5 separate regions of the Homo sapiens genome follow, and all the other regions are linked to region 3. Evidence: fine-mapped expression QTL. A gene starts in region 3. Each other region holds a variant in brackets. All regions are shown on one strand. Distances are between the middles of the regions. Region 1 overlaps TBC1D22A (TBC1 domain family member 22A). Region 2 overlaps TBC1D22A (TBC1 domain family member 22A). Region 3 holds the start of TBC1D22A (TBC1 domain family member 22A). Region 4 overlaps TBC1D22A (TBC1 domain family member 22A). Region 5 overlaps TBC1D22A (TBC1 domain family member 22A).

Region 1 (4,116 bases), 410 kb before region 3:
CCTGTGCTGGGGACCCTCCATGCCAAGGAGCTGCAGGGTGGGTGTGGAAAGGCCTCACAGCTGAGTGGGGGCCACCCCAAGCAGCCCGCAATCCCGCAGGGCAAAGTGCAGAGCCAGAAGGAAGCCAAGGGGCTGGGGCTGAGAGAGGAGAGGAACGGTGGGGTGGACTGGGGCTGGGAAGGCCCCAGGGAGGTCCACACCCCGAGGGGTCTGAGTCTTGGGCAAACTCCCCAGGACTGCGGCCGAGAGCAGATCACTGGGGCCACAGGGCTGACGAGGAGCCTCCAGCTCTGGAGGACGGCGGCATGGAGGCTGGCATGCTGCAGCCTGCGATGGCGCGTGTCATTCTGCAGCCTGTCCCCAAGTCCTCAGCGGAGTGGGTCTGCTTGAACACAGACAGTATTCCTCCTGTTTCCATCCATCGGTGACACGGCACAGAAGCGTCCCACCTCCTAGTTCTTCCAAAAGTACAAACCACAGAGACTCTCCATCTCCTACTCCCCAGGACCCCAATGCTCCCCGACGCGTCTGACCTTGCCAAGGGCACAGCAGTGGTGCCAGCAGGCCGAGCCTCTCCCTGGGACCGGGCAGGGTGAGGTGCACAGGACAGCAGCCACCACAGGTCAGGGATTGATTTCAGGACCCCTGGGCTCGGGCCACCCACAGGAGCAGAGTCTGCACAGGCTGTGAAGACCTCAAGTTGGGCCCGAGGAGCCAACTGCTGAGCTGCAAACTCCGGGGAATCGTGAAGGTGAATGGCAGTTGCTGGGCTGTGACCTGGAGTCAGGAGCTGAACACCTGGTGGCTGCTGGGGACAGCCGATCTCCGTCCTGCAGCCTACGACCCTGCAGACCACAGCCAGGCAACAGTGAGGTCAGCCCATGTGCCGGGCCACCGGGCCCAGGAAGGCAGCCCTGCCTGGCTCAGCTCCGCACTGGGTCACTGTGGAAAGAGAGGTGAAGAGGCTACTCCCACTTTGTGGAGCCACCAGCCCACCCGTGGGGACAGGAGCACACCCCACACCTACGGGGACAGGAGCACACCCCACACCTGGTCAGTAGTGCGCACCCCACACCCGTGGGGACAGGAGCACACCCCACACCCGTGGGGACTGGAGCACACCCCACAGCCGGTCAGTAGTGCACACCCCACACCCGCGGGGACAGGAGCACACCCCACACCCGCGGGGACAGGGGCACACCCCACACCCGCGGGGACAGGGGCACACCCCACACCCGCGGGGACAGGGGCACACCCCACACCCGCGGGGACAGGGGCACACCCCACACCCGCGGGGACAGGGGCACACCCCACACCCGCGGGGACAGGGGCACACCCCACACCCGCGGGGACAGGAGCACACCCCACACCCGTCAGCGGACAGCACAAGGCAGTGGAAAGCCAAGTGCTGCCAAGGGAGGGTCCCGAGGGTGGGGCACCCAGGGGGGTGTGGGGTACCTGAGGGTGGGGCACCCAGACGGGGTTACTCAGAGGGGTGTGGCGCACCTGGAAAGCTGCCCTGAGAAACTGAGGCCCTTTGAAGGGCCTTGCTTCAGTAACACAGGGCAAGGAGGGTGTTTCAGTGTGTGGGTGAGGGTGAGGCAAGTGTATCCCAGGAGAGGCGGGGGGGACCCCAGACCCTGGTGCCTACCCCGGAACAGCCCTTTTCAAAGCAGGTGCTTGACAGATGTGGCCCAAGGGGAGGTCCCTTGTTCAGGAGCCTGACAGGGGCCAGCCTGGACCCCACACTCCCGTGTTCCAGCTAGTGCAGAGCCGGGCTTCGGGGGTCAGACTGGTTTCTGAGTCTTGCCCCGCCCGGGCAAGTGGCATCCCTGCACCACCTGAGCAGCTGCAGCCCCATCTCCCTGAGAGGTCCTGCGGGGGGCAGCGAGATCACGGGTGCTGCCGGGCCCACGCTGGTGCGCCGCAATGGCCCTGAGCTCAGACCCTCGGCAGGGCTGGGCCAGGGTGCCCCTGTCCTCGATGGGCAAGTCCTCGAATCACAGGCCAAGGCCGCGGCTTTGTCACTGATCTTTATTCCGTGTTTTTAGCGCACCACATCCAGACAGCACACCCCGAACATTCCAGATGGATCTGCTCAGACTTAAGGCCCGCGGCCAACACCTCTCACATTCAGTCTTGGCGTTTACATA[C/T]ATGAGGAAATGCACACAGGGCTGAACTCCGTGGAGCTTCCTGTTTAAAACATCAACCACCTCGAGAAGCAGGTCAGTTGTGTCCGCAGCCTTCTGGCCACACGGCATGATCTGAGCTGGAGAAGGGGATCCTCCCAGGGCTGATCTCGGCAAAGCGACATGGGGCTTCCTGCACACGGCCGAGGGGCGGCTCTTCTTGTGACGGAATCCCCTCCCCATCTAGAAAAGGAGGCGGCAGGAGGAGGAGGCATGGCTGGTCTGAGGAACCCTTGACCCTGGGGTGGGGACACGGAAGGCAGGGGTAAGGCGTGCCCGCATCTGATGTGAAGCAAGCCCATCCCTTTGCTGGTTTGGGAGCATCTGACGTTTGCACAGCATTTTGTGCTAATTTCCATGCTGTGTGTAATGACCCTGGATTTTTAAAACAGAAGCAGAAACACACACATCACTTATGCCTGTATGTCCCACAGTCTCTGGCAGTGTCCTAGGGCCTGGGAGAGGACACGGCTGCTCCTGAGGGACAGAGGAGAGTCTGGGAAGTCAGTCACCAGTGGGTCGCTGAGGACGTGAGCCTGTCCTGGGCTCAGGGATCAGACAGACTGTGGCTGTGGCCCTGCCCGCATTCCAGGGGTCATGCAGCCTGTGACACACCGAGGGAACGCTGGGAAGCCAGTCCCAAGGCCCCTGGAGCCAAGGACACAGCCCTAGCAGGGCGCTGGGCAGGGACCAGCTCTGGGCCCTTCCGCACTTAGAGCCCCAAGGAACCAGTCCACAGCGGGAACCAGTCCAGGGCAGAACCAGTATACAGCGGGAACTGGTCCACGGCGGGAACCAGTCCACGGCAGAACCGGTCCAGGGCAGGAGTGGTCCAGGGCAGGAGTGGTCCATGGCGGAACCGGTCCATGGCGGAACCGGTCCACGGAGGAACCGGTCCATGGAGGAACCGGTCCATGATGGAACCAGTCACACCTCCCCTACACCTGGCAGACCTGGACAAGGACAGCAAGTCCCAGGAAGTCTCCAAAAGCTCATTCCGCTTCCAGGCTGCGGTGAGAAGAGCACTGTGGTTCAGGGCTTTGATGACAGGGACGCGACCCCCTGCCCGTCTGCCAGCCCAACATGGCCCGACAGCCTGGGTGGGCCTCCAGGGGCTCTGGCTGAGGCCGGCGCCTACCTGCGTGGCGGGGCCACTTGGCCCTGGACCTCAGGGAGGTGGGGGTTTCTCTCTTGTAAAAGAGGTTCAAGGTGGAAAGTAAGGCGATGGCGAGGCCTCCCTCTGCTCCCAGCCTTTGGTCCCACGGCCTCCCAGGCACTCGGCGGGCTCACGGCTTGGACTCCAGCCTTCAGCTTCCCAGCCACGTTTAAACCAAGCAAGCAGGAAAACACACGGAGGGAAAGGGCCAGCAGCAGTGAAATACAGCTGTGAGGGGACCTCGCGGCACAGAGACCCCGGGTCAGCGCAACGTCTCGGTCTAGATTTTGTCTACATTTTATTCTTTCACTCAACAGAATAGAAGTTTTGCATTTCAGAGTAGGTATGAGATGGCCACTACCTCGTTCCGGCCCTGGCACCCAGACAGCAGGACTCCAAAGAGGGTCGGCCTCCTAGGCTGCCCCGGACTAGGGGCAGCACGAGGCAGTCATTTGGCAAGGACATTGCAGGGAGAGGGAGAGGGGACCCCTGACCTGCCTCTGGCCGCCGAACCCGGGGCCCTCCCCTGGCTCTCTTTGGTATCTCAGAAAACAAAGGCTGTCCCTGTCTTTGTCAGCCCTAGACCAGGTCTGTGGCCCATCTTCACCAGCTCCCCTGGAGGGTGGGGCCACCTCACAAGGCCTTTTAGCAGCCCGGGACCAGCTCACAGGGGCCTACCACCAGCCAGGCAGGTGGGGCGCGCCACCCGGGACAGTGAGGCCAGCTGCGGGTGGGCCTGGGCTCATTTCTTGTAGTGATTGGGGGCGTCGG
Region 2 (4,116 bases), 230 kb before region 3:
GCGCAGCTGCTGCCTCTCCTGGACTTGCTCTAGCCGCAGAAATGCTCGCCCCATGGAGGCCAAAACGGGGAGAGGCGAAGGTGGGTTCAGCCCCTTGCACTTCTCAAGAGGCTCCACAGCAGGTGGGCAGGGCCCGGCCCTCAACACTGGCTCTGATGGGGTGGGTGAGCCTGATGGGTCCTGGGATCAGTCAGCCATTCGGTGGCTCTCCCACTAAGACAGGATTTTAGGCTCTCAGTTAGCAGAAATAAAAGTTATTCTTTGCCTCCATCTGGCACAGTTTTGTTTTATTTCTCAATTTGTTCAAAACCCAGGTAGGGAAGACGGATTCTCAGAAATCCAAACAATTAAAAAAAAAGAATGACACCTGAGAGCCAATAACGAAAAGGTCTGCATTTTGAAAGAGAAAATGTTTGCATTTTGAAAGACCTGCAAAGACTGACAGCTATGGCCTCGGCATTCTGGCTTCAGGCTAGGGGCGGAGAAGGCCAGCCTTCAGAAGGCTGTAGCAGGGACGCCCGGCCCCACCCCCCGAGGGCGAGGCGCCAAGGCTAAGACACAGGGGGGTCGGTCTGGGCCCTCCTGGCTCCTGGCTCGGGAGGTGAGCCCAGCCTGCAGAAGGCCCCGCTCTGGGGCCAGGAAGCCTTCAAGGGCACTCTAAGGAGGCAGACACCGTGGCCAAGGAATCCAGAGCCAGGTGGCTGAGGAAAGGAGGGAGAAAAGAATGTCCCATGGCCCTCGCAGCAGCCTGTCCCAGGGAGGCACTGACCGCCCAGGCCCTCCCAGCAGCTGCCCGCAGGCTGCACCAAGGCCCCTGGGTAGATCACAGGCTCTGTCTGCTTAAGGCCCAGAAACCAGATTTGCCCTCGGGACACCCCAGCCCAGCACCCCGCCTCCCACACCTGGCACCCAGATCACCTGTGCTGGTGAACACGTACCTGGGCAGCAAAACAGGAACTAAGCAAGAATCCTCTACACTTATAAAAATGTCATTAGTAATAATATTAACATTATTCCCTTCATAAAAAGTAAGTATGCATGTCCTTTCCAATTGAGATCTGGTATCTTTAAAAAAGGATATAATTTATAAAACATATGCATCAGAGGGAAGAGAGGAAGGGCTGAAGACAACGATCTGTTGTGAAATGTTTCACAGAAGGTGAAGTCTGTGAATATAAATTTTTAAAAATACGCTCAGCTTGCCTTACACCTGTTGCCATTACAACATCACACTCTTCCCGATAACAAATAACACTTTCTGCACTTTTTGGAAGAAAAGTAGAATAAAATTTTCTTAGGGAGCATTTTAGAGAAGAGTCGAAATATAAATTCCTATCAGCTCACCTGGAAGTACCCAGAGTCAAACCTGCCAGCTCACGGAGAAGTTAGACTCCCTCCTGCCTCTCTGACAAAGTGCTCTTCCACCTGGACCAGGGATCCACCTCCCCACAAAGTCCAGCCTCTTCTTTCCAGGCTAATTTCACCGTAACATAGTGTCTTCCCCACATTGAAACCAAATGTGCCTTCCACGCCCAGGCCTTGACCTGCCTCTGAAACACCTCGGGAAGTCTTTTCTGCAAGCAATGGCCTGAGAGACTTCCATTTCCTTCAACTCTTAAGACTCCCTTCCACATCCTCTCGGGGGCCCCTGGCCACCAGCCCTGAACACAGAAGCTGGGCTCTGACCACGCAAGGACAGAGCTAGGAAGCCTCCTGTCACAGCTGCACTCCACTGTCAGCCATTAATACATTAAAGCCATTAACGCATCAGTCCAGCGGAAGGCAGAACCACATCAGATACTAGTTCTTTCATCTGTTCAACTCTGAAAGCCTCCTACGTGCCAGAAAATCAAGTCCTGAGTATCGATGTGTGCGAAGGAGTCAAACACGCAGGCCTGGGAATGCTATCCCCGGAGAGTCCTGCTTGCAAGGCCGGTCCCCGGCCGGTGCCTAGAATGTGGGTTTCAGGAGAGTTCCCACGATTCCCTGACTGATCTGGATGACTCGGCGGGCCTACACTGTGCAGGGTGGTTCACCCTGGGCACCTGCT[C/G]TCCTCCTGGGAGGCTGCATTTGGGCACATGCCAAGCAGAGAGTGTCCGCATGCCCAGTCCCCAGTAACATCCTCGGTGCTGAGTCTCTAATGTGCTTCCCCAGCAGGCAACGTTTCGGACGGGTCGTCCCAGCCCCGCACTGGAGGGATCCAGCGTGTCCTGTGTGACTCCGCCAGGAGGGGGCTTGGAAGCTTATACCGCTTCCTCTGGACTTTACCCCTTGATGGAGTCTCCTCTGCATCCTTGCACTGTGAAGAATCACAGCCACGAGTGTGGCTCTGTGGGGTCGTCTTGGGATCCCCTGACACAGACAGGGAGAAAAGTGGACAGGCAGACAGGACCCTTCTGTTCACAGGGATGACAGTCTGACAGCTGAGCCAATGTTCATCACTCGCCAGGCAAGTGCACATTGACTGCTAACGAGGACCTGGGTGGCCACACCATCATAGCACAGAACCAGGGCTGGTCCTGGAAGACCACTTGGAGGGTGTGAGGTCTGAGCAGAGATGAGAGAGAGGGTTCAGGCACCATGCAGCAGAGCCCCGGCGGCCCGAGGGAGCATGTCACATCCCAGAAATGAAATGGAGGCCAGGGCAGCTGGAGGGCAGCGAGCAAGCTGCGGCTGAGGCAAGAGGAGACCGTTCCGAGGCTGGAAGGCCACGTCGGAGTCAGCGGTGAGACCCAGGCAATGCTCTCAAACGCAGGTAATGAAATGCAAATGGAGGCCACTGCAGGTAAGAGATTTGCACCACGGAAAGATGATGTAGAAACAATGGAATGAGCCAAATGAGGATGGAGGGGTATCATTCACGAGGCAACTGCCGTAATCCAGGCAAAGTGACTACACGCGCTTCCCACGGAAGACAAAGTGAACCCCAACTGTCCACACTGCCTTCTGCTGAGCTGACTGCTCGGCTCATGCACCTGAACGTAGGACTTGCCATTTGTTCCTATTAGCTCATTCATTTGATTGGTTCCCGGCTGGCACTGCAGGCAGCTGAACCCATTCTGAATCTTGATTGTGCCATCTATCACATTCGCTATCCCTCCCAGCTGAGAGGCACTGGTTAAACGGATCCCCTTGACGTCTTCACTACAGTCTCTGCCAAGAGGAGGGAAGGGCAGGGCCAAGGACGGGGCTCGGCAGCATGTTCTCAGAAAGCACCCTCAGAGCACAAACGTGTCAGATTCTATGCAGCCTTGTTTAACCAAACCCCCTGCTTTCCTACCTGCCAGGTTCATTTCTCTGATCTTCTGTGTTCCCATCTGTGAAATGGAGAGAGGAAGGGCTCCATCACAAGGGCACAGGCGGTACTGAGTTACTGTGTCTAAAAGAACCTAAGACAATGCCCATATAGAGTGCAAACCCAACCTCCCCCTAATTCCGCACCTTCCATGATGTGTCAGCCATCAAACAGTGGTTTAAGGCTGAAGGCTCCCAACCCAGCCAGGCCAGAGGAACCAGTGCCTCTGTAAACCACTGGAAACGTGACTGTCCCTTGTCTTCAGACACGGGCCAACCAGCAGAGTAAAGCGGCACACCAGCAGGAGGAGGCCATCCATGGTCACTTCCAGACGCACACGGCGAGGAGCAGAGCCGTCACGAACGCCGGCGCGGGAGGGAGACAGCCAGCAAGCCAACGGGGAGAGAAGCCACCGCAGCAGGAGCAGTGGGATGAAAAGGTTCCAACTGCAGGATTTCAACTAAGTCACATTCTGGCAAAGGTGAAACTATGGAGACAGTAAAAAGCCCAGGGGTTGGGTGGAAGGGGATGAACAGGCGGGGCACGAGGGTGTTCAGGGCAGGGGACGACACTGTGCGACACTTTCTTGGTGGACTCATGTCACTGCACACCTTTCAAAACCCACGGCCTACAACTGGTGTAAACTGTGGACTTTAGTTGACAATAATGTATCGATATTGGCTCCTCAATTGTAACACATATGCCACACTGAAGTCAGTGATGTGAGATACTAATCACAGGGAGGCTGGGGCTGAAGGAGGACGCTGAGGAGCACATGGGGCCTCTCTAACCTCCTGCTCAATTTTTCTGGAAAGCTAAAA
Region 3 (4,101 bases):
ATTACCACCAACTGAATGGCTTAACACAACAGACACTTATTCTCTCTCAGTTTTAAACGCCAAAAACCCAAAATCAAGTGGTCATCTGCAGGGCCATGCTCTCTGTCAAGTCTCTAGGTGAGCATCCTTCCTTGCCTCTTCTAGCTTCTGGTGGCTGCCAGCAACCCCTGGCTTTCCTTGGCTTGTAAATGTACTATTCCAATCTCTGTTTCTGTCTCCATAGGGCCATTTCCCTGTGTGTGTCTCTCTGTATTCAAATTTCCCTCTTTTTATAAAAATACTAGTTGACGAACTAAGGCCCACCCTCATCCAGTATGACCTCATTTTACCTTGATTACTTGTGCAAAAACCCTATTTCCAAATGTCACATCCATAGTTTCCAGATGGACATAAATTCAACTCAGTATAAGGACAAATTACCAAGAGCCACAGCCTTCAATCCAAAGGTTGAGTCACTGCTGTAACTCCACACAGCAGCTCTGTTATTCTTACATCTAAGCTGATTAAGAATTAGAGTTTAGACTGATGAGGAACCAAAACCTTAAGACCTAAAAGTAACACATAAAAGTTACACTGTCATGTGGCTCCTCTTCCCTGGACTCTTATGTTCTACAGCATTTGTTCCTGTCACTACCAGGACCTCCTACCCACCACCATTCCAGAATCTTCACTCACCTTGGACCCTGACACTGGTTTTGTTGAAAGGTCTTACTGTTCTCGAATCAAGCACGGTCCTGTGGAGTCGAATAGGGTCTCCGGCCACCTTTGATGACTCCCTTCATTCTCAAAGCCACTGTCTGAGCTGTCAGTAACTCACGCTGCTAACCCCCAGATCACTCTTAAAAGTAAACTTTCCTTTTTTTTTTTGAGACAGAGTTTCGCTCTTATTGCCCAGGATGGAGTGCAATGGAACGATCTCGGCTCACTGCAACCTCCACCTCCCAGGTTCAAGTGATTCTCCTGCCTCAGCCTCCCAAGTAGCCAGGATTACAGGCATGTGCCACCATGCCCAGCTAATTTTGTATTTTTAGTAGAGACTAGGTTTCTCCATGTTGGTGAGGCTGGTCTCAAACTCCTGACCTCAGGTGATCTGTCCACCTCGACCTCCCAAAGTGCTGGGATTACAGGCGTGAGCCGCCACACCTGGCCAAAAGTAAACTTTTCTAACTGGATGCAGTAAATTCCAAAGTTTATCATTCAAACACTCAAACAATAATATTTATTATGAAACAGGAGTACAAACCATTTTACTGTGTTTATGAATGATTCTACTCAGACTTATCTTCGTAACACAATTCATAATTTTCAGCATTCCAGACTTCAGCTTTGGAACAGAACTATGTTCTGAAATCTTGACGTTTGCTTATCTCTGATCTGTTTTCACCAGTGGCTGATTTTATCCTAGGTACCCTCCACGTAATGTCTCATTCCCTAGGGCCCTGGCATAGCTCAGCGCCACAGCAATCAGACAAGGACTCTGGAGCTCTGGAGCTGTATAGCATCTAGGGTGTACCCAGGTCATTCCAGCCGAAGAAAAAAAAAAAAAAAAAAAAAAAAAAAAAAAAAACTTCCTGCTAACACAACATAGGAGGTGGTTTTGACACCAGCAAGCAGAAACATGGAAACTCACAGGGAAACTCTAGTCCTCTTCTATGCTCAAGGCAAGAGCCGCAGCCCTCAAGAGACCACAGGCAAATCAAGTGGGTCAAAAACACCACACCCCCTGCAGAAACTGATCCACCCAGCAGACGGGGGGCCTCAGCCCGGCCAGCTTCCGGACTCCACCAAACTTCACAGCATGACCCGAATCAGTTCCTTCCAGCCTCCCCAAGGAGCCCAGGAGTTTCTCGGAAAGAAGCCTGCCAGTGTCAGGAAAAACGCCAATAGCTCCTCCTCGTCCTTGCAAGCCTCGATCCTACGTGCAGCCACTGTCACCCCCAGACCCCACGCTCCGACCTCCGAGCCCCCCAACGCCCGTCACACCATCCAGCAGTCTCCTCAGAGTCCAAGTTGCCCTCTCCAGACCCCCGACTCCACCCGCAGCCCAGGAGGCCAACGCGGCCACCTGACCTCTGACCCCTGACCCCGACCTGGCCCTCCGCGGCACACCCACCTGCCCGGGAGCTTGCTGTTGCTGCGCTTCCAGAATTGCTTCCTGGCCCCGTCGCTGGCCATGGCCCCTCCTCATCCCTCAGACCCGCGGCCCAGACACCCCGAGTGCACCCGGCCCTCCCCTAGCGGCCCTTTCCTGTGCCCCGGGTGGCCCCTCACTGCTCCCGGGACTCCAGAGCCTAGAGCCGAGAAGCTCTTCCGCCTCCTTCCGGAAGTTGTGCCTACGCGCGCCCGGAAGTCCCGCCTAAGTCCCTGGTGGCGAGTGACGCAGCACTCCGAGCGCCCGTCGTTATTAAAGGGCGACGCCGCGCAACGCACGTTACACGCATCGCGGAGGGAGCGGAGGTGGTTGGGTTTCTGAGTTTGAGTCTGTCGCTCCTGGCTCTCCCGACACAACAGCGGCGCCCACCTGCCCGCAACGGACTCCCAGGAGCCTCGAGCTCCTCATTTCCAAAGCTGAACTGCCCCGTGTCTGATTCCGATTTCTCTTGAGCGCGTTTCGGAGCCGGCCCAGAACAGAGGGAAGCCAGACACACCATACCCGGCCCAACAGTGGCAGGGCGGCTGCGGGTGCTGGTCAAGCTGGGTCACCCGGCACTGAGTGACGATCAGCAAATACTCAGTGGACGAAATATTTGCAGTGCAGTGAGGTGAGGGGCATAACCGCGGAGCGTATTCGAAGAGATGAGAGAGACTGGGGATTAGGCCAGGCTTGAAGGGAAGAATGGTTTGAGCACCGAGGACAAGAATTAATTCCCCAGGCCTGGGTTCCAGCCTTGTGCGGCTATCACGTGCTTGAAACCTGGCTAGTCCGGAGTGAGATGCGCTTTACGTGTAAAATACAGGATTCCAAAGACGTCGTATAAAATAATTTGTATATTGTTTGCATGTTAGGTAACATTTTTAATGTATTGGATTAAATAAAATGCATTAAAATTATTTTTACATTCCTTTTACTCTTTTTAAAATTATTTTTACCTTTTTTATTCTTTTTTTCCGGGGGGGACTGGGGGTGGGTGTCTTGCTATGTTGCCCAGGCTAGTCTCGAACTCCTGCCCTCTAGTGATCCTCCTGCCTCACCCTCCCCAGTAGTTGGAACTGCAGGTGCACACGTTATGACTAGATCTTTTTACTGTGTGTGTGTGTGTGTGTGTGTGTGTGTGCAGAAAATCACTAAAAAAACCGTGTCTGGTTTGCATTACATTTCTGTGCTTCTTAGACCAAAGATTGAATGCTCAGGGACTGTCATTTCAGACTGGAGCTTTAGTGTATTTGGAGCTCCTGCCAGTTCTCTTTTAAAACAAAAATCTAAGACATATTTTCTGATTAAGAATTTCCCTGGAGGCTGAGGCAGGAGAATAGCGTGAACCCGTGAGGCAGAGCTTGCAGTGAGCCCAGATCGTGCCACTGCACTCCAGGCTGGGCGACAGAGCGAAACTCCGTCTCAAAAATAATAACAATTTCCCATGCCTCTTCATTTACTGGTAAGTAACATTGACTTAGTACTTACTATGTGCAAGGCGTCCTACTCTCCTAGAATCCTCTCCTAGTAGGGCTCAGAAGGCCCCAGGGGTCTCCTCCTGACAGAGCCCTGACAGCCTCAGACAGTGAGGTCCCCTACAGACAACACTGAGGACCATGGCGGTTCTTTCCAGCTCAGTCTGGCTTATTGCAAGAACCAGTGAGCGAGGTGACAGCAGGATTAACCTGATGGAAGGGGAAAGGAAGGAAGAACTGAAACAATTGACAGAGGAAAAACTGGCAGCACTTAGTGACTGGTTACACCTTAGATCCGGGTGCTTTTTATAGCTTACCGTATACTTTGCTAGCTACTGTTTTCAGGCGAAGGAGTGAGGCTGAGATTGACTTGAAGGCTTCAAAACCAGCTAAGCAAAGGATTACTAGGATCACAACAGAAACGTGAAGATGGAAAAAGAAAGTCTGAGTAGAAGGCCAGTTTTGAAAGCCAAAGTAATACAGATGTTGGAG
Region 4 (4,116 bases), 270 kb before region 3:
TGCAGGTCCAGAGGCAGCGCCAGCGTGTTGCTCACTTAACAGCTTCCTTCTAATCCACTGCCGCTTTATTAAAGACATTTATTTTTAAAATAAAACTAATTTCACTACCAAAAAATGGTTCCCATAGTCTCTAATAAGTAAAGGGCAGCGCGGCAAGTGGAGAGAACAAAACGGTGCTGCCGAGGGGCCCCTGAGGCTGAAGCCCCCGCAGAATTTAATCCCACGGCTGCTCATCCCTCGGGGGACAGAGAGACCAAAGGGGGTGCCAGGAGGTGTCTCAGGATCCCCACAGATGAAGAGACACTGGCCCCCAGAATGAAGTCAGAGTGCCTAAGAAAGGCACCAGACCCCCACTCCCTCCTCGGCCTTCACCGCTGCCTTCCCCTGCAATGCCATGCCTCCTGCGGTGGCACCAGGTGACCAACAACACCCATGCTACCACGCAGGCTTCCCCGCGCCCCGGGCTCACCCTCATGGCAGCCTTCCACCAGGGCACCTGTCTCTGCTCAGTGCGAGGCTACCCAGACGTCAAAACTCCTGGATGCTTCCAGAAACACCCCAAGCTGTGAGCCTCCCCCTCTTCTTCGTTCTATACACACCTCTATGGAAGCATTTATCACGAAAGGGGCATAAGTGCTCAGGGTGCCTGCCCACCCTGGGGTGTGAGCTGGTCAGGTGTGGGTCCAGGTCTGTGTCGCCTTTGTTTCCCCGGCCCCCAGTACACACAACTGAGCATCCATGAGTGTCTGTCAGGTGACTGTGATGAACGAATGAGTACAGAGAGCAAACAGGTAACCGGAAGATGGACACATTCCCAGCCTGGCCGTCCTCCTCTACTTCTATTTCTCAACACAGCAATAGCGAGGAGTTTTCCAGCCACACCCTAGAACATGACGTTCTTTTCAAAGAACTTACAGAATCATTTCTAACCTGAAGTTAATCTGCAGCTACAAAACTAAACTGATAGAAAGTTCTACGAAGCCCTGAGGGGGCTCCACCATCCAGGCCTGACCTCTGCCCATGCCCCTCGGAGGGTGGAAGTCCACCCAAGCTGCTACCAGACTCTGCTGCCCCCAGCGCACTGACACGTGGAATTCAAGTCTGAACACTTAAAACCAGCTGTTTAGAAAATGACTCCATTTACTCAACAAGGCTCTTTTGCACAGAAAAAAGAATGAGCTTCCATGAAGGAGCAGTTGGCTACTTGGGGAAGAGCAGCCAGGACGACAGCGACAGCCCCAGAGGAAAATCACTGCTTGAAACAAAGCGCCTGAGGAAGGAGGGGCCACACAGGGCAGCCTGGGACGGCAGTGTGAAAGGAACGTTCCAGGGCAGGTGCCTGGCCTGGCAGGTGGCACCTGGTTTCACTGGCCACTCCCAGCCCACAGCTCTGCGTGGACGTCTGGGCTGCAGCAAGTGGGTGCCGCCTTGCACTGGCGTGAATGAAGCTCTGCCGTGGAGATAAGCTGAAGTCAGCAGCCTGGGGCCTCCTGGGACACACGGCCACACTGCACATCCCTGTCTGGCCGCTGCTCTGAAGGTTCTCCAATGCTGCCAGGGCAGGGCCCCAGTGTACCAAGGCAGCAGTGGGACAGTCACAGGCTAATCACCAGGACACGAGTGCTGTGCCCACATTTTACACAGGAGGCTTCAGGCGAGCTTTAGACAGGGCTACAGAGCCTGGGTGTTCTTCCCTTTGGGTGTGTGTTCGCGGCCACTCCCTCTCTCCTCTCACTCCAGGCACAAATCCAGTGTATGATGAGGCCTCTCAACCAAGCACTCACAGGGCCAGGCCCTGGACCCAGTCTGGGGGACCTGGTGTGGGTGGGACTTGCCAGAGGGTCTTATCCTCTAGACTGTGACTTCCTCGAGGGCAGGGACTTTGTCCGGAAACAGAGACCAGCACCAAGGCAGGCCATGGCCCACCACACATGTGATGTGTGCGGGGCACACATTTGTTAACCAGGCAGCCTGGCACCCAGGGCAGCCGCTGCCATGGATGAGGATGAGGTGACTGCTGGGGAAGGTGCACACCACAGAGTCACACGCAGAAGAGGAGCCGTGGCTCACCGGCCAGTCTGTCACCTGCCTAGAGCAGCAGCAGCCCACCTGTGCCGGGGCTCGGCATGTCCCCACCTGGGAAAACAGACAACTCTACCACGGGCCTGGGAAGCAGGTGACATCTTTCCAACACAAACTGGCAAGAAACAGACTTGAAAATTTAAACACATATTTCTG[G/C]AACACCTGTCATTGTGGTAACTAAACAGAGTACAAATTAACCCTTCCTGCCCCACTTGCAGGGACTCAGGGGTGGAAAGCACAGAGGCCACCAAGCCCTCAGCCCCTCCCTGAGGGACGCTGACTTGAGGAGAAGGAGCCCGTTCCAGCCAGAGTGCAATGGCCGGCTAACCTGCACCGAACTCCCACTGCACAGCTCCTGAAGGGGGGCACACACCTCACACCCTGGGGACCCCGGCCCCTCACCTGTGAGGTGAGGCAGGTGAGGGGACCTGTCCAAAGGTGCACACAAGGAGGCAGGCGAGCCAAGATGGGCCTGAGGATTGCCACCACTCTGTCCCCTTGAAACGACCCCACACCACCAGAGCTGAGCATGGACCCACCCTTGCATCTCTGGGCACCTGCGCCCTGGGCAGAGCCACCCACCCTCCTCAGGGCAAAGCCCAGTACATCTGCAAGAGCACCCGGTCACAAGGAACTAACCAGAAAACCGGACACAGCGTTAACCTCACAGGCACAGGCAAGGCCGTTCCAGGGCAAGAGGCTCCTCTTTCATTGGTTCCTTAAGGAAAGATTGACCAGGGCCTCCACTTCCCAGGGTTGCCTCTGAAAGCAAAGCTACAAGGAAGACAAGGCCTGTTTCTGCCCGCCGGGGGCTCAGCAGCCTGTAGGAAACAGACAAGGCAATCCAGCCTTCGGGCTCCAAGCTGTGCACTGCACCCGAATTACAAGCTCTCTGTGTCCTGAGTGCCTGGCCTTCTGCCTGACACAGGACCTTGAACTCCTGAAAGGAGTGAAAAGGCAAAACCCACGCCCACCCAGAGGTGATGGCAGGCACAGCACGAGACCATGGTGGCCACAGCAAGGGACTCCATGGCAAGCGCTCCGCTGAGTCACCCAACACAGCCTGGCTAAGCTGGCTTGATTCTGGAGCCCATGGGACATCCATCCAGAAGGCACCGGGGAGTGTCCTTCTTCACACGGAAGTGGTCACTTAGCACGACTCCGTGGCTTCTCTGGCAGCACGTCATGAAGGGTGCGGGCGTGGCCAGCCAGGGCCTCACCCCGCCGGGACGTGCATCCCCAGCGGGAAAGCCTCCTCCCGTCTGGGCACGGTGAAGGATGGGCTGCTAAACTCCAGGCATTACTTCCCATTTATACACATCAAAGCTGCAAATGTACATGCCGAAAGGATTCATTTTTCTTATTTTATAAGTAATTGCGAGCAGATGCTCTTTCACTGATAAAGGTAATTTGGTTGGCAATAATTCTGAATTTGAAATTTCCATTTCACTGGAAATAAGAGTATACATACAATGAATGAGCAGGCAGGTGTAATTATTGTCATATTTCAGGCTGAAAAGGTTTTTTCATAAAGCCCTTATGTGGCAGGGCAAGGCAACGTTATTGTTGTAAAGTCACCAGGAAGAGATGTGTCATATTGGCAAGCTGGAGAAACAACCACAATATTTGTTGAACACTTTTCCCAGCACTTTAAACAGCAGATCCACAGACCGAAAATTCTGCTGAAACATCTTGTCTTCTTGATTAAAAATAAAAATAAATTATGCAAGCACATTGTGTCCCAGGATTTAGGCTAAAATGGAAAAAACACGTATCCCATTGACTTGGCATAAAACACACACTGTTTATGCAGGACCAGACACTCAGATTTATCACCCGAAGAGCAGCATAATGGCTCACACTTAGACACCTGACAAAGAAAACCTTTCAACCCCCCGCACAAAGCCGAGAACAGACACAAATACATCACGCTTTGGCTGGGACAGCCATGAATAGGCTTTGATTCTGGGGGAAGATTTCAATTCTCTAATCAGTTAAAAAGATAAAAAGAACAAAAGCAAGAGCCACTGACAG
Region 5 (4,116 bases), 220 kb before region 3:
CTGCATGGCCAACAAGGTCTACAGCTGCCCTCAGTGCTCTTGCACCTGCCCGCCAATGCCTGTCCCGCCACCACCTAGTTTAGGCTCCTGAATCCCCTCCTTCATCCAAATACATCCCACATCCCTCCACAAGCTTAGACGTCCCTCAGGGCAGTGCCAATGACATCGATTCGTTGTTCACACGACCGGTAGGCCAGCAGTGGCTTTCCAGGCATTACTCGCTGGACAGACCATCTCCCCTAAGACCAGCACATCTGGAAATGTAGCTGTTTTGCCTTTTCCCCCAACACCAAATGCCCCTGACTAAAAAGACTGTCTCTTGGCCGGGCGCAGTGGCTCACGCCTGTAATCCCAGCACTTTGGGAGGCCGAGGCGGGTGGATCATGAGGCCAGGAGATCAACACCATCCTGGCCAACATGGTGAAACCCCGTCTCTACTAAAAATATAAAAATTAGCCGGGCGTGGAGGCGGGTGCCTGTAGTCCCAGCTACTCGGGAAGCTGAGGCAGGAGAATTGCTTGAACCCGGGAGGCAGAGGTTGCAGTGTGCCAAGATCATGCCACTGCACTCCAGCCTGGTGACAGAGTAAGACTCCATCTCAAAAAAAAAAAAAAAAGACTGTCTCTTAAACACTTAGCAGGAAGGGCATCAATCCACCAGAGATGAGTGATCAGGCCCAAGTACCTGGTGCAGGCCACAAGGACAGACTTTCCAGAGCTGTCAAACATCAACCCAGCTTCCCAGCCTCAAGCTCCAGCCCACACTCCTGCTCCCTAAGCACTCTGAGTGATCCCACACCATGGAGTCCCAGCTTAGTCTAGAATGCTCTTCTCAATCTGCTAATCCCCCACCCAGACCTTGGTCTATCTGGCTCCCTAGTAACTGCTGGTATTGCCATTCTTACAGATCTTCTGTGCACACTGGAAAAGAATGAATATTCTCTGTGTGCTGGATATGGGGGTCTAGGTATGTCCATTTGCCCAAACTGTGCAGTACACGTCCTCCCAGATCTTCCTAATTCTTATCTGCTCGATCTACTGTATTAGTCCACTTTCATACTGCTATAAAGAACTGCCCGAGACTGGGCAACTCATAAAGACAAGAGGTTTAACTGACTCACAGTTCAGCATGGCTGGGGAGGCCTCAGGAAACTCAGAATCATGGTGGAAGACAAAGAGGAAGAGGCACGTTCTTTGCAGGGCAGCAGGGAGGAGAAGTACTGAGCAAAGTGGGGGAAGAGCCCCTTATAAAACAGTCAGATCTCAAGAGAACTCACTCACTATCAAGAGAACAGAATGGGGGAGACCGCCCCCATGATCCAATCAGCTCCACCTGGTCTCTGCCTTGACATGTGGGGGATTATGGAGATTACAATTCAAGGTGAGATTTGGGTGGGGACACAAAGCCTAACCGTATCACCTACTAATCACTGAGAGGCAGGAAAGCTGGTACTGGACTGTGTGGGTCTAAACCCCAATGCTGCAACTAACTAGCCACAAAATTGGAAGTGCCTTATGGTTGCTGTGAGGGAAAATGAACTAATATTACAACGAAGCACTCAGGACCATGTCAGGCATTGACAACCACCACCCCTCTCCCATCATACTTATGTACATGTGCAGAAATACAGGGTCAAGGTCATGCATTCAAGATTAACTCTTCCCTGGTAAATGTATCCACTGGCAGTGATACTCTTTGTCTCTAGGAATGCTTTCTGCCTTAAAAATCTATCTCATTTAATAGCTCCACGGCTATTACACAGCTACATATGGGCTACAGAGCTACCTAACTATTACTTTGGTTAATATTCTTCTGTTGCATTTCCTTTCTACCTGTCTCCTTGTGGTTTCGGTGTCTTGTAAGTA[G/C]CATATAGCTGGATTCTGTTTTTAAATCTAATCTCATTGGAGAGCTATTTTTCTTCAGAACATGAGACACATTATTCTACTTTTTTCTGGCCTTTCTTCTTTCCTATGAGACTTTCTCTTCTCTTTCTTATTCAGTGGCTTCACTCTCATGTCTCCATAGGTAATTAGTTTCAACTCATCTTTCTGGAGATTTATTAGATATTAGTAACAACATCTCATCAATGCTGAAAAATTCCCAGCCACAGCTTTACAAATATTGGCTTTCCTCTAGTACATTTCTCTTTCTAGTTCTATTTTTTAAATTCTATCTTTCCATGTCTTAATCTGCCCATATTTTCAGTATCTCTCTGTGTTGCCCAGTTGGTAATTTTCTCAGCACTACATTCAATTCTAACTAACTCTCTCTTCTCTTTTGTCTAATGAGTTTTAAATTTCAGTGACTCTAATTTCGATGCTAGAAGTTCTGTTTGGTTCCATTTAAAATCTGTGATTTCTAGCCGGGCACAGTGGCTCACACCTGGGTAATCCCAGCACTTTGGGAGGCCAAGGCAGGGGGATCACAAGGTCAAGAGATCGAGACCATCCTGGCCAACATGGTGAAACCCCGTCTCTACTAAAAATACAAAAATTAGCTGGGTGTGGTGGTGGGCACCTGTAGTCCTAGCCACTCAGGAGGCTGAGACAGGAGAATCACTTGAACCCGGGAGATGGAGGTTGCAGTGAGCCAGTATCACACCACTGTACTCCGACCTGTGCAACAGAGCGAGACTCCATCTCAAATAAATAAATATAAATAAATCTGTGAGTTCTTTCTTCAGAGTCTTTATTTTAAACTGTTTCATTCTCCTTAATATTTTAAAGTTACACATTGTCTGGTTCCTTTCAAATCGCTGTTCTAGTGTCTCAGGTCTCTGGGTACAAATCCTCCTAACGAGAGCAATCGCTAACATTTATTCCCGGCGCACTCCTTCTCTGCTTGGTTTGTACTTCGTCTGCTGTGAGGTCATCTGCAGATGCCTCTTCCCATGGGAATGCCACAGGCCTGTGGCAGGAGATCATCCCTCCTGGGCAGAAGTTCTCAGACGGTAGCCAGCCAACTCCTGGGGGTCCCTAGACCTTTCAAGGGGTCTGTTATATTGAAACTGCTGTCATAGTAACATGAAGGCATGATTCACCTTCCTCACGGTGCTGACATTTGTGCTGGCAGTACACAGGCAGTGGTGGGTAAAATTGCGGGCATGCTGGCAGCAGGCAGGGCAGTGCCCTCACCACACTCAACCGTCACTGTGTTCCCAATACCACACGCTCATGGTGTGAAAGCAAAAGGCTGTTTCACTTCAGGACGCCCTGGATACGGCAGGAAAGGTCACTCATCTTACTATTAACACTGCGCTCAGGCTCAGCCCTGACCAACACGTGGAAGAACACGGAAAGCCTGAGGGGCAAATCCAGAAACAGAAGCGTCGTCAAGGAGAGCACTTGGTGCGCTGGCTTCAGCTGTGAGCTGAACCGAACACTTTCTTCAAGAAACATCACGTTTACATGAAAGAAGGACTAGCAGACAAATCAGTTATTCAAACGCGGGTCTCTGGAAGATATTTTCTCAAAAATGAATGAAGTTGGCCTGTCACTTCAAAAGAAACAAGGAACTGTGTTTGTTGCCAATGATAATATCTGAGCTTTTAAATTAAAAATCTGAATTTTGGAAGACTTTTATCTGCCACCCTGGGCCTGACAGCTGCTTCTTATGAGACGGTGGTAATATACTAACAAATTTGATCATACGATGAAACTTATCAACATTTAAAAGATCTGCACACCTCAGTCAGCCAATATTTTCCAAATCGCCAATGAATGATGTTACAGAGCCAATATATGGGTAAAAGATCCTATCAAAGTGCAAGATAGGCCACCAACTTTAATGTAACTGAGTGTAAAACATTCACTGATGAGGTTTCAGATTTCATATCACAACTACCCTTTAAGAAACTACCATTTGTTGAGTAATAGTATAGTATGAATGAAAAAAGAATCCAAAATTACCTGAAAAGGCTATTAAAACACTTCCTGGCCGGGCGCGGTGGCTCATACCTGTAATCGCAGCACTTTGGGAGGCTGAGGCGGGCAGATCACTTGAGGTCAGGAGTTTGAGACCAGCCTGGCCAACACAGTGAAACCCTGTCTCTAACAAAAATACAAAAATTACCCGGGCATGGTGGCGTGTGCCTGTAATTCCAGCTACTCGGGAGGC

Evidence for each region. PIP is the estimated chance that this variant, and not a neighbour inherited with it, causes the effect.
Region 1: its variant is the best candidate, but not a certain one, in a credible set for the expression of TBC1D22A in whole blood (TOPMed, PIP 0.83).
Region 2: its variant is the best candidate, but not a certain one, in a credible set for the expression of TBC1D22A in blood mononuclear cells (TOPMed, PIP 0.82).
Region 4: its variant is the best candidate, but not a certain one, in a credible set for the expression of TBC1D22A in whole blood (INTERVAL, PIP 0.80).
Region 5: its variant is the best candidate, but not a certain one, in a credible set for the expression of TBC1D22A in whole blood (INTERVAL, PIP 0.63).

The regions. Positions count from the first base shown.
Region 1 is chr22:47,173,598-47,177,713 of GRCh38, reverse strand. TBC1D22A (TBC1 domain family member 22A) reads right to left here. Exons shown (of 13, transcript NM_014346.5): 13 at 2,021-4,116. The coding sequence ends at 4,088. Among named protein-coding and RNA genes, the nearest start is that of TBC1D22A-AS1, 260 kb to the right of the region's middle. RefSeq lists an enhancer at 773-1,863. The variant C/T (reference allele first, on the strand shown) is at 2,154.
Region 2 is chr22:46,990,361-46,994,476 of GRCh38, reverse strand. All of the region lies in intron 9 of TBC1D22A (TBC1 domain family member 22A), which reads right to left. Among named protein-coding and RNA genes, the nearest start is that of TBC1D22A-AS1, 76 kb to the right of the region's middle. RefSeq lists an enhancer at 389-1,217. The variant C/G (reference allele first, on the strand shown) is at 2,051.
Region 3 is chr22:46,760,861-46,764,961 of GRCh38, reverse strand. TBC1D22A (TBC1 domain family member 22A) reads right to left here and starts at 2,312. Exons shown (of 13, transcript NM_014346.5): 1 at 2,114-2,312. The coding sequence starts at 2,175. TBC1D22A-DT (TBC1D22A divergent transcript) reads left to right here and starts at 2,434. Exons shown (of 1, transcript NR_186691.1): 1 at 2,434-3,051. RefSeq lists enhancers at 595-644, 665-744, 785-854, 1,785-1,864, 2,565-2,694 and 1 more and a silencer at 1,605-1,664.
Region 4 is chr22:47,030,102-47,034,217 of GRCh38, reverse strand. The region is part of intron 10 of TBC1D22A (TBC1 domain family member 22A); the gene reads right to left. Among named protein-coding and RNA genes, the nearest start is that of TBC1D22A-AS1, 120 kb to the right of the region's middle. RefSeq lists enhancers at 1,590-2,181, 2,678-3,205, 3,206-3,734. The variant G/C (reference allele first, on the strand shown) is at 2,239.
Region 5 is chr22:46,978,727-46,982,842 of GRCh38, reverse strand. The region is part of intron 9 of TBC1D22A (TBC1 domain family member 22A); the gene reads right to left. Among named protein-coding and RNA genes, the nearest start is that of TBC1D22A-AS1, 65 kb to the right of the region's middle. The variant G/C (reference allele first, on the strand shown) is at 1,866.